2 separate regions of the Homo sapiens genome follow, and region 1 is linked to region 2. The links come from fine-mapping of genetic effects on gene expression. A gene starts in region 2. The other region holds a variant in brackets. All regions are shown on one strand. Distances are from middle to middle. Region 1 has its middle 12 kb from the start of SLC25A33. Region 2 holds the start of LZIC (leucine zipper and CTNNBIP1 domain containing).

Evidence for each region. PIP is the estimated chance that this variant, and not a neighbour inherited with it, causes the effect. A credible set is the group of variants that fine-mapping cannot tell apart.
Region 1: its variant is the best candidate, but not a certain one, in a credible set for the expression of LZIC in testis (GTEx, PIP 0.56).

The regions. Positions count from the first base shown.
Region 1 is chr1:9,525,125-9,530,496 of GRCh38, reverse strand. No RefSeq gene overlaps it. Among named protein-coding and RNA genes, the nearest start is that of SLC25A33, 12 kb to the left of the region's middle. The variant G/A (reference allele first, on the strand shown) is at 3,050.
Region 2 is chr1:9,941,129-9,946,500 of GRCh38, reverse strand. LZIC (leucine zipper and CTNNBIP1 domain containing) reads left to right here and starts at 3,110. Exons shown (of 8, transcript NM_032368.5): 1 at 3,110-3,252; 2 at 3,719-3,877. It overlaps NMNAT1 (nicotinamide nucleotide adenylyltransferase 1), which reads right to left and starts at 3,026. Exons shown (of 5, transcript NM_022787.4): 1 at 2,986-3,026. RefSeq lists enhancers at 2,941-3,510, 2,778-3,977, 3,511-4,081.

The sequences.
Region 1 (5,372 bases), 420 kb after region 2:
GAGTTATGATGTGAACCCAGCTACCCCTGCCTGCAGAATGGGAGTGCCTAACTCAGAGCTGGGGCAGAGGTCAGCACACTCTCCCTTAGGTCAGGCCAAGTGGGTTCAAATCCCAGCACCCTGGGCACCTCACATAGCCTCTCTGAGAATCTGTTTCCCAAACTGTTGAGGGCAGATGGAACTGCCTCAACAGGACCTGGCTCACAGGGCTGTGGTAGGATTACAGACGTTAACTGTGCCTCAGCCAGAGAAAGTGCCCAGTAAGGAGAAGCCCCATCATTGTCATGTTTTCGGTCCCCAGCCCTCAATATGAGTTTCAGCCAGCTAAGCGCCGTGGATCATCCCTGCAATCCCAGCACTTTGGGAGGCCGAGGCGTGTGGATCATTTGAGGTCAGGGGTTCAAGACCTGTCTGGCCAACATTGCGAAACCCCGTCTCTACTAAAATTACAAAAATTAGCCGGGCATGGAAGCAGATGCCTGTAATCCCAGCTACTTGGGAGGCTGAGGCAGGAGAGAATCGCTTGAACCCAGGAGGCAGAGGTTGCATTGAGCTGAGATCGCACCATTGCACTGCACCCTGGGCAACGCAGTGAGATGCCATCTCAATTATATATATATATGTGAGTTTAAGCCACATTGATTGTGGGCGGGCAGCTACCAGTTGGAAAAGCTGCTGGGTGAGAGACTTGGAGGATCCTCAGCATACAAAGTGGGTTCTATGTTCTTGTCTCCAGAGTGTTGCTCTCCTCAGCCTGATACCCAGCGCCAGCTGCTCTGAATACCAAGGGGTGCTGCGCCAGGGGCATCACCATGGATGTGGCCATCCCCTAGGGAGAAACCACAGCATCTGGACCCACAGCAGCTTCCAAGCAATGAATGAGTGGGGGCGGAGCAAGAGAAAGCACACGGCCGACCTATTGCCCAGGCTGGTCTCGAACTCCTGGGCTCAAGCAATCCTCCCACCTCGGCCCCCAAAGTGTTGGGATTACAGACGTGAGCCACCATGCCTGGCCAACAGGGTAATTGGTAGACAAAACACATAAGACATAAGAACAAAGCTGGGAGTCCCAGAGGCTCAGTGCAGATAATGCAGGTAGGCGTAGGCTCCAGCTGATGTCACCAGCAGTGACTTCTGCATGCGTCAGGGAACTGCTGAGAGACAGAGCAGCTTCAGGCTCTGAGAAGTCACTTTCATTTTTCAATGGGGTTTTTTTTTTTTTTCCTGAGACCAATTGCCCAGGAGGCAGAATCAGGACACTCTCTAGAGGGCCAGCAAGCCTCGGGGCTTTGAAGATTTCATTACTGCCTAGAAATTATTCTTTGTTCACTGCCCTCCCAGGGGAGCTGGCTCCGGTGGCAGACCTGGCATCACCACAGTCTAAGTAGGGCAGAGCTGGGGTGCTGCCGCTCTAGGCCCAGCAAAACAGAGGGGCAGGCCTGCAGAAGGGACCCAGACCCTAGCGAACATCCAGAGAGTGCCGGCTCTGCGCTTTAGTCATATTGACTCAATTGTTCCTCAACATTGTCAAGTGGGGACTATTTTATTACTGTCCCCATTTTACAAATAAGATGACTGAGGCACAGAGGATTTGAACCAGTGCATTTCAGCTCCAGAGTCTGTGCTCCACCCACTGCCAGGATGGATTAGAGACTCCAGGCAGGGAGCATTCCCAGCCTTTCTTCCTCTGACATCAGTTAAGCCGACCTGTAAGCCATCTTTCCCCTTGACCAACCTCTTTGTGCTGATTTTTTTTTTTTTAATTTTTAGTTTTTAGACAGAGTCTCACTCTGTCGCCCAGGCTGGAGTGCAGTGGCACGATCTTGGCTCATTGAAACCTCCGCCTTCCAGGTTCAAGAGATTATCCTGCCTCAGCCTCCCAAGTAGCTGGGATTACAGGCGCCTGCCACCATGCCTGACTAATTTTTGTATTTTTAGTAGAGACGGAGTTTTGCCATGTTGGCCAGGCTGGTCCTTGGCCTCCCAAAGTACTGGGATTACAGGCATGAGCTGCCGCGTGCAGCTCTCTTCGTGCTGATTTGTGAATCTGTTGCCAGTGAGGGGAAAGGAAGGAAAGCCAGATGTGGAAGGAGATGCACTGGGTTCTCATTACCAGGCATGGTTTCATGAGGGCCTGTGAGATGCTCACCATCAGAGCTCATGAACACTGAGCACTTCAAGGCATGCTCTGCCACTTTCAGGAGTGTGACTGGGACTACAGGTGCACGCGACCACACCTGGCTAATTTTTATATTTTTAGTACAGACAGGGTTTCACCATATTGGCCAGGCTGGTCTCGAACTCCTGACCTCTTGATCCGCCTGCCTCGGCCTCCCAAAGTGCTGGGATTACAGGCATGAGCCACCACACCCAACCCACTGATGGTTAATATTAAATGTCAACTTGATTGGATTGAAGGATGCAAAGTATTGTTTCCGGGTGTATTTGAGACAGCCAAGGAAGAAGGGCTCCCTGGAGATCTTTTAACCGGCCTGAGTACCGGGAGGAGTGCGCACTGGGGTGGAGCCTTGGGAAGTTTGGGCTGTTTGCAGTGGGGAGGAGCCTGGACTCTCCAGTTCCTGGGTGGTAACCTGGGATTCAATCTGTGAGGTGGGAAACCTACGAGCAGGACCCTCGCTTTGCTGACAGTTCCTGTTTCCCCTTTTGTCCTTTTGGCCCAGTAAATTTCATTTTTCTCACCCTTCAAAGTGTCTGCGAGCCTAATCTTTCCTGGTCGTGTGACAAGAACCTGAATTTTTCTTTTTCTTTTTTTTTTGAGATGGAGTTTCGTTCTTGTTGCCCAGGCTGGACTGCAGTGGCTCGATCTCGGCTCACCGAAACCTCTGCCTCCCCGGTTCAAGCGATTCTCCTGCCTCAGCCTCCTGAGTAGCTGGGATTACAGGCATGTGCCACCATGCCCGGCTAATTTTGTATTTTTAGTAGAGATGGGGTTTCTCCAAGCTGGTCAGGCTGGTTTTGAACTCCCGACCTCAGGTGATCCGCCCGCCTTGGCATCCCAAAGTGTTGGGATTTTCCTACAACATGTCTG[G/A]GTGTTGCCAGAAGAGATTAACATTTGAGTCAGTGGACTGGGAGAGGAAGACCCACCCTCAGGAAGACCCACCCTTAGCGTGGGTGGGCACCATCTAATCGCTGGCCACCACGCCCGGCTAATTTTTTGTATTTTTAGTAGAGACAGGGTTTCACTATGTTAGCCAGGATGGTCTCAATCTCCTGACCTTGTGATCCACCCGCCTCGGCCTCCCAAAGTGCTGGGATTACAGGCGTGAGCCACCGCACCCGGCCAGGGATGACTTTGAATAGACTAGGAGGCAGGTTTGCCCTAAACAGTTCCCAGCTTGACTTTTCCCTTTAGCTTAGTGATTTTGGGGGCCCAAGATAGTTTCCTTTCACAGAACAAGCTTGGATTGTGTGAGGAACTGAAAGGAGGCCCGTGTGGCTGAAGCCTGGGGAGCCAGGGGTGAGAGATGTGGGGGATGGAGAAGCAGGCAGGGTTGGTGCCAGGCCAGGCAGGTTGTGTGATGTAGACACAGACTTTTACCTGGACAAGCTGGTTTTACCCTTCTGTCCAGGGACTGTCTCCATACATCCTCCTTCATATGCTGAATCTTCATTCAAGCCTCATGACTTTGAGACGTGGCTGAGCCACACATTTGGGGAGAACAATCCGGCTTACAAAGCCAACCGTGTGGACAGGATTGCAGAAGAGATTCAGTTCCAGAGTCTGCATTCTGGAGCTGGTGGGAATTCTGAGTGACCGACAAGGCCCTGATTCATCCTTTGGTCCCTGTGTGGTTAATTTCTTTCTTCCTTTCTTTCTTTTTTTTGAGTCAGAGTCTCGCTCTATAGCCCAGCCAGGCTCACTGCAACCTCTGTCTCCCAGGTTCAAGCGATTCTCCTGCCTCAGCCTCCCGAGTAGCTGGGATTACAAGTGTGCACCACCACACCCAGTTAATTTTTTTGTATTTTTAGTAGAGATGGGGTTTCACCATGTTGGCCAGGCTGGTCGTGAACTCCTGACCTCAAGTGATCTGCCTGCCTCTAAGAGGGGAGACCATCCCTCATATTGTCTTATGCCCAATTTCTGCCTCCAAAGAAAGAAGAAGTAAAAACTAAAAGGCAGAAATGAAATCCACAAACAGCCCGGCGCCACACCCTGGGCCTGGTAGTTAAAGATCAACCCTTGACCTGATCGGTTATTTGCATAAAAAAAAAAAAAGCCCGAGCGAGGTGGCTCACGCCTGTAATCCCAGCACTTTGGGAGGCCAAGGCGGGTGGATCAGGAGTTTGAGACCAGCCTGACCAACATGGAGAAATCCCCTGTCTACTAAAAATACAAAAAATTAGCAGGGCTTGGTGGCACATGCCTGTAATCCCAGCTACTTGGGAGGCTGAGGCAGGAGAATCTCTTGAACCTGGGAGGCGGAGGTTGTGGTGAGCCGAGATCGTGTCATTGCACTCCAGCCTGGGCAACAGGCTTTGAGACTCTGTCTCAAAAAAAAAAAAAAAGCACTGTGAAGATCCCTGTCCTGTTCTGTTCCTTTCTAATTACCGGTGTATGCAGCCCCCAGTCTCATACCCCCTCCTTGCTCAATCCATCACGACCCTCTCACGTGGGCCCCCTTAGAGTTGTGAGCCCTTAAAAGTGACAGGAATCGCTCACTCGGGGAGCTCAGTTGTTGGAGACATGAGTCTTGCCGAAGCTCCCGGCCTTCTTTAACTTGGTGTCTGAGGGGTTTTGTCTGCAGCTTGTCCTGCTACACCTCAGCCTCCCAAAGTGCTGGGATTACAAGCGTGAGCCACCATGCTCAGCCCCCATGATGGTTAAATTCATGTGTCAACTTGACTGGGCTAAGGGTACTCAGATGGCTGGTAAAACATTGTGTGTGTGTGTGTGTGTGTGTGTGTGTGTGTGTGTGTGTGTGTGTGTGTGTGTGTATGTGTATGCTTCCAGAAGAGATCAGCATTTGAATTGGGAGACCGAGTAAAAAAGATCTACCCTCACCTATGTGGGTGGGCATTGGCCAATGCTCAATAGAGCAAAAAGGCAGAGGAAGGTGATTTCACTGTCTGCTTGAGCCGAGACATCTGTCTTCTCCTGCCCTTGGACATTGGAGCTACTGGTTGTTGGGTCTTCAGACTGGACCAGGACTTACACCATTGTCTTCCCTGGTTCTTAGGCCTTTGGGTTTGGACTGGAACTGCACCACTGGCTTTCCTGGGCCTCTAGGTAGCAGATGGCAGATTATGGAACTTCTCAGCTTCCACTATCCTGTGAGCTAATCCCTCATAATAGATCTCTGTTTTTCTGTTTTGTTGAGATGGAGTATTGCTCTTGTTGCCCAGGCTGGAGT
Region 2 (5,372 bases):
CTAGTTGGAGCAACTTGCGTTCTCTGGGCTCCCATCCCAAGACCAAGCTGAAGTGTCCTCAACTCCTCCCGCTGCCAAGGAGCATTTATCTGGTTTCCCAGTGACTCCCAGTCTGGAGGTTACTTTCCCCAGTGCTGTCTCCCATGGTTTCCTACCTAACATCTTATTTCTCTTTCTCCAGTTTCTTCTCTGCCTTCTGTCTGAAGGCTTGTATTCTATTTTTGTTTCAGAATGCATTTCTCTTATGCATTAGAAATGTTTTCATTATCCATTAACTCTAAACAAGAACCTAAAGGCATATAAAAAAACCCTTAGCATAGAACTGCTGAATGACTAAGTCACAGAGAAGAAAAGGCAAATACCTCCACTGCTTCGAAGACTGCACACGCTAAAACTACACAAATGCCAGAACAGAACATTGGATTATCATTATCAAAATTAGGGGAAGGCTGGGTGGGGTGGCTCATGCCTGTAATTCCGGCACTTTGCGGGGCCAAGGTGGGAGGATTACTTGAGCCCAGGAGTTTGAAACCAGCCTGGGCAACATGACAAAACCTCATCTCTACAAAAAATACAAAAACTAGCCGGATGTGGTGGCATGCACCTGAAGTCCCAGCTACTAGGGAGGCTGAGGTGCAAGGATCACTTGAGCCTGAGAGATTAAGGCTGCAGTGAGCCGTGCTCGTGTCACTGTACTCCAGTCTGGGTGACAGGGCAAACAAAAACAAAAATTAAAAAATCAGGGAAAGTACACTGTGAACAAATGTTTATTCAGCAAATTTTTCAAATTATTATTATTATTTTTTTGAGACCGAGTCTCACCCTGTAGCCCAGGCTGAAGAGCACGATCTCGGCTCACTGCAACCTCCGCCTGCCGGGTTCAAGCAATTCTCCTGCCTCAGCCTCCCGAGTAGCTGGAACTACAGGCATACGCCACCATGCACAGCTAATTTTTTGTATTTTTAGTAGAGACAGGGTTTCACCATAGGGGCCAGGCTGGTCTCAAACTCCTGACCTCGTGATCCGCCCACCTCGGCTTCCCAAAGTCCTGGGATTACAGGTGTGAGCCACTACACCCAGCTCAAATAATTTTTTTAAAGTATATTTTCCAGTTTTGTTTTGTATGGCACTGACTCTGTCACTGTGAATTCCATTTTACCCAAAACATTGACACTTCCACACATATTTATGAATCAAAATTGAAAGATAATTGCATTAATAGGTACTTTTATTTTTTTCTTCTTTTGTTTTGTTTTGTTTTGTTTTTTTAAGACGGAGTTGCTCTGTCACCCAGGCTGCAGTGCAGCGTCGTGATCTTGGCTCACTGCAGCATTCACCTCCTGAGTTCAAGCGATTCTCATGCCTCAGCCTCCTGAGTAGCTAAGATTACAGGCATGGACCACCACGCCTGGTTAATTTTTGTATTTTTAGTAGAGATGGGGTTTCACCATGTTGGCCGGGCTGGTTTTGAATTCCTGACCTTAAGTGATCTGCCCGCCTTGGCCTCCCAAAGTGCTGGGATTACAGGCATGAGCCACTGCACCCGGCCGACTTTTGCAAAGGAAATTCTTTGAATCTGAAGTGTCTTGCAAGGTAGAGGCTATTGCAACCATTTCAACTAGTGTGTCAACAGTCTTCTCTAAGGTGGGCTAGAAAAATGGTTTCATATTCAAATTGTAACTCTGAAAAACAACTGATGGTAATAAAGAGATTCCATAATCAGACAGAACTAAGTGAAACAATTAGTTTTGGTAGAGTTCTGTGGTAATCATAGTTAGAAGTTTATCCTGGGTAGCTGAAATATAACTAACTTCAGACTCCAGGCCTGTCGGTGGCTTGTGCCAATCACCACAACACTTTGAGGGGCCAAGGCCAGAGGATCGCTTGAGCCCAGGAGTTCAAGGCTGCAGTGAGCTATGATCACACCACTGCACTCCAGCCTGGGCAACACAGCTCTTGTTTTTTAACAAGACATTGTTACTTAAAAAAAAACTGCCCTGATGAAACAATTCTACCATGAACACTGATGTTGTTCTGTGGACTACTTCAGGAAGATGGACTAAGAACATCATTAAATAGTTCCAACCAGTTTCTGGGTAATTTTATTTTTAATTTTTTGTTATGAGGGTCTTGCTATGTTGCCCAGCCTGGGCTCAAATGATCCTCCCACCGCGGGCTCTCAAAGTGCTGGGTTTACAGGTGTCACACCGCGACAGCCAAGGGTAACTTTTTTTTATTTTTATTTTTGAGATGGAGTCTCGAACTGTCGCCCCGGCTGGAGTGCAATGGCGCGATCTCGGCTCACTGTAACCTCCGCCTCCAGGATTCAAGCGATTCTCCTGCCTCAGCCTCCCGAGTAGCTGAGATTACAGGCGCCCACCACCACGCCCAGCTAATTTTTTGTATTTTTAGTAGAGACGGGGTTTCACTATGTTGGCCAGGCTGGTCTCGAACTCCTGACCTCGTGATCCGCCTGCCTCGGCCTCCCAAAGTGCTGGGATTACAGGCGTGAGCCACCGCGCCCGTCCAAGGGTAACTTTTTAAGAGCTGCCCTACAGCTCATTACCTCCTTCTCAAGGAGCATGAGTGTCAAACCACCTCCAGCAAAGTAGATGTAGTCTTTTACAGATTTGGAAAGAAGGATTTAGGAGGAAAGGGAAGTCGTTCGGAATGAAGGATTTCCTCCTCTGACGCCCAGCCGTCCCCCGTTAAGCCTAAAGGTGCCAGACCTCAAGACTCTTCTAGAAAGAGATTTTTCCTTTCCAAGGTGAATCCATCTGTTCCGAAGGTCAGAAGCTATTTTACCGAAGTTTTCCGTTCCACTGAAAAAATTAAGGGTCAATCAAAGCTCCTTGCCCCAAACCTGAATATGAGCTTGCCTCGGGTCATATTCGACTCTAAAGACTCCACCACACCATCCTGGACTCCCCTATATCTAGGACAAAAAGCGACCAGTTTCTCAGGGGCTCCTTGCGGGGAGCTTACCGCGCCCTCACTGTCCGCCGGCCCGAGTGCTACCGGAGATCACCAGCGGCCCGGACGCCAGCGAGTGGAACATCTCGGTCGCACTCTCATTGGTTCCAGGGGGCCGGAAGTGCGTGCGTCCAGCGGAAGTGCTCCCCCGGCGCGGTCCGCCAGGCCAGTGCCCTCAGGTAGGCGGGGCCCCTGGCCCTAAACTCTGGGACTGGCGGGCGGTCAGGCGGCACAGGGGGAATCCCGGGGGCCTAAGGAGGTTGTCCCAGTTTTTGTCAGGTAGGCCCGGAAGGAGTTTCGGGGACCATGGGTTTACGGCTACCTCTGGTGGCAATTGGGGCCTGTTGGAGCCCGGCCGCCGCGGGACCTACGTGCCGGACTTCAAGTTCCCGCGTGGGGTGGGATTTGCTGCGGTGGCCGGAGCTGATTCTTCACCCAGTCCTGTTGGTTCTGGGCCAAACCCTCCTCACTTTCAAGGAAGAGGCGTGCTCTCCGCCCTTACCTTTTCCAAGCCTCTGGGTTTGACGCCATCCCTCAAGGCGTGTCCGGATGCGGGATTTTCCTCAAAGACCCTCTCGGCCTCGCTAGGAAGAAACTCAGAAAGGCTGCGGTAGGCGCAGTCGAGGGGGAAAGTGCCCCCGCCCTTGATGTCTCAGGCTGCTCAAGTGGAAGTTATCTGGACTGCCTTAGGGCAAGTTTATATATAGCAAATAAAATTACTTGTTAATGGTTTCCTTTTTTCCAGCATCTCCACCCCGAGGTGGTTTGAACTTTGAGCCTTTTGTAGTCCTGATGAATAATTTCATTTTCCTCAAGTTTATGACACTCGGAACGTCAAGAACTGGAGGTTTGTGCAATTTGAGACCGGTCGGCACTGTGCAGAGATCAGAGTACTAAGAGACAGGTGAGCATGAATGAGGACCCTCCGCTCCAGATATAGTGTCTGAGAGCGGTTTCTGTAGTTTCGTAAAAGTGAAAAGTGCACCACATTTAGTGACTACTAGGTGGTGCCAACGAGTTAATCTTTCGGGGATAAATCTCAACTAATGTAGTACCAGGTTAAGGCTTTTAAAATGCACCCATTTTTACTGAAATGTATTCAGAATAGCTTTAGCTCCTTAAAATATGTTGAGCCTTTATATACGTGACCAAATTATCGACGTTCTATTCTGTATTAGGTACTGAGAAAGCTGAGAGAGGAATCAGACTCATATTCTGTTCTCCAGAGTTTAGTCAGAGGAGATAACGTATTATAATAAAATCATATATAATTAAAGGCAGAAATAAGTGCTAAATAGAGAATAAGATTTGAGCTGGGCGCGGTGACTCACGCCTGTAATCCCATCACTTTGGGAGACTGAGGCAAGTGGATCACCAGAGGTCAGGAGTTCAAGACTCGCCTGGACAACATGGTGAAACCCCATCTCTACTAAAAATACAAAAATTAGCCAGATGTGGTGACGCATGCCTGTAGTCCCAGCTACTGGAGAGGCTGAGGCAGGAGAATTGCTTGAACCCAGGAGGCTGAGGTTGCAGTGAGCCGAGATCGCGCCACTGCACTCCATCCTGGACGACAGAGCGAGACTCCGTCTCAAAAAAAATTTTAAAAAAAAAGATTTGAATGCTAAAGAAGAAGCAATCAATTCTCATTATTCATCTACCAGTTGTTTATTCGGCACTTTTTGTCTGTCCAAGATTGTGCTGGATGCTGGTGTATAAAGAAAAGGTAAAGGCCGGGTGCGGTGGCTCACGCCTGTAATCCCAGCACTTTGGGAGGCCGAGGCAGGCAGATCACGAGGGCAAGAGATCGAGACCATCCTGGCCAATATGGTGAAACCCGTCTCTCCTAAAAATACAAAAATTAGCTGGGCGTGGTAGTGCGTGCCTGTAATCCCAGCTACTTGGGAGGCCGAGGCAGGAGAATCTCTTCAACCTGGGAAGCGGAGGTTGCAGTGAGCCGAGATCGTGCCACTGCACTCCAGCCTGGCGACAGAGTGAGACTCCATCTCAAAAAAAAAAAAAAAAAAGGTAAAGGCTAGGCACGATAGCTTACACCTGTAATCCCAGCATTTTGGGAGGCTGAGGCAGGCGGATCACCTGAGGTCAGGAGTTTGAGACCAGCCTGGCCAACATGGTGAAACCTCATCTCTACTAAAAGTACAAAAATCAGCTGAGCGTGGTGGCGGGCACCTACATTCCCAGCTACTCGGGAGACCGAGGCAGGAGAGTCACTTGAACCCAGGAGGCAGAGGTTGCAGTGAACCAAGATCATGCCACTGCACTCCACCTGGGTGACCGTGAGACGCCATCAAAAAAAAAAGAAAGAGGAAAGAAAGAACGAACGAACGAAAGAAAGAAAAGGTAAAATCCCTACTTAAATAATTCACAACCTAGTGATT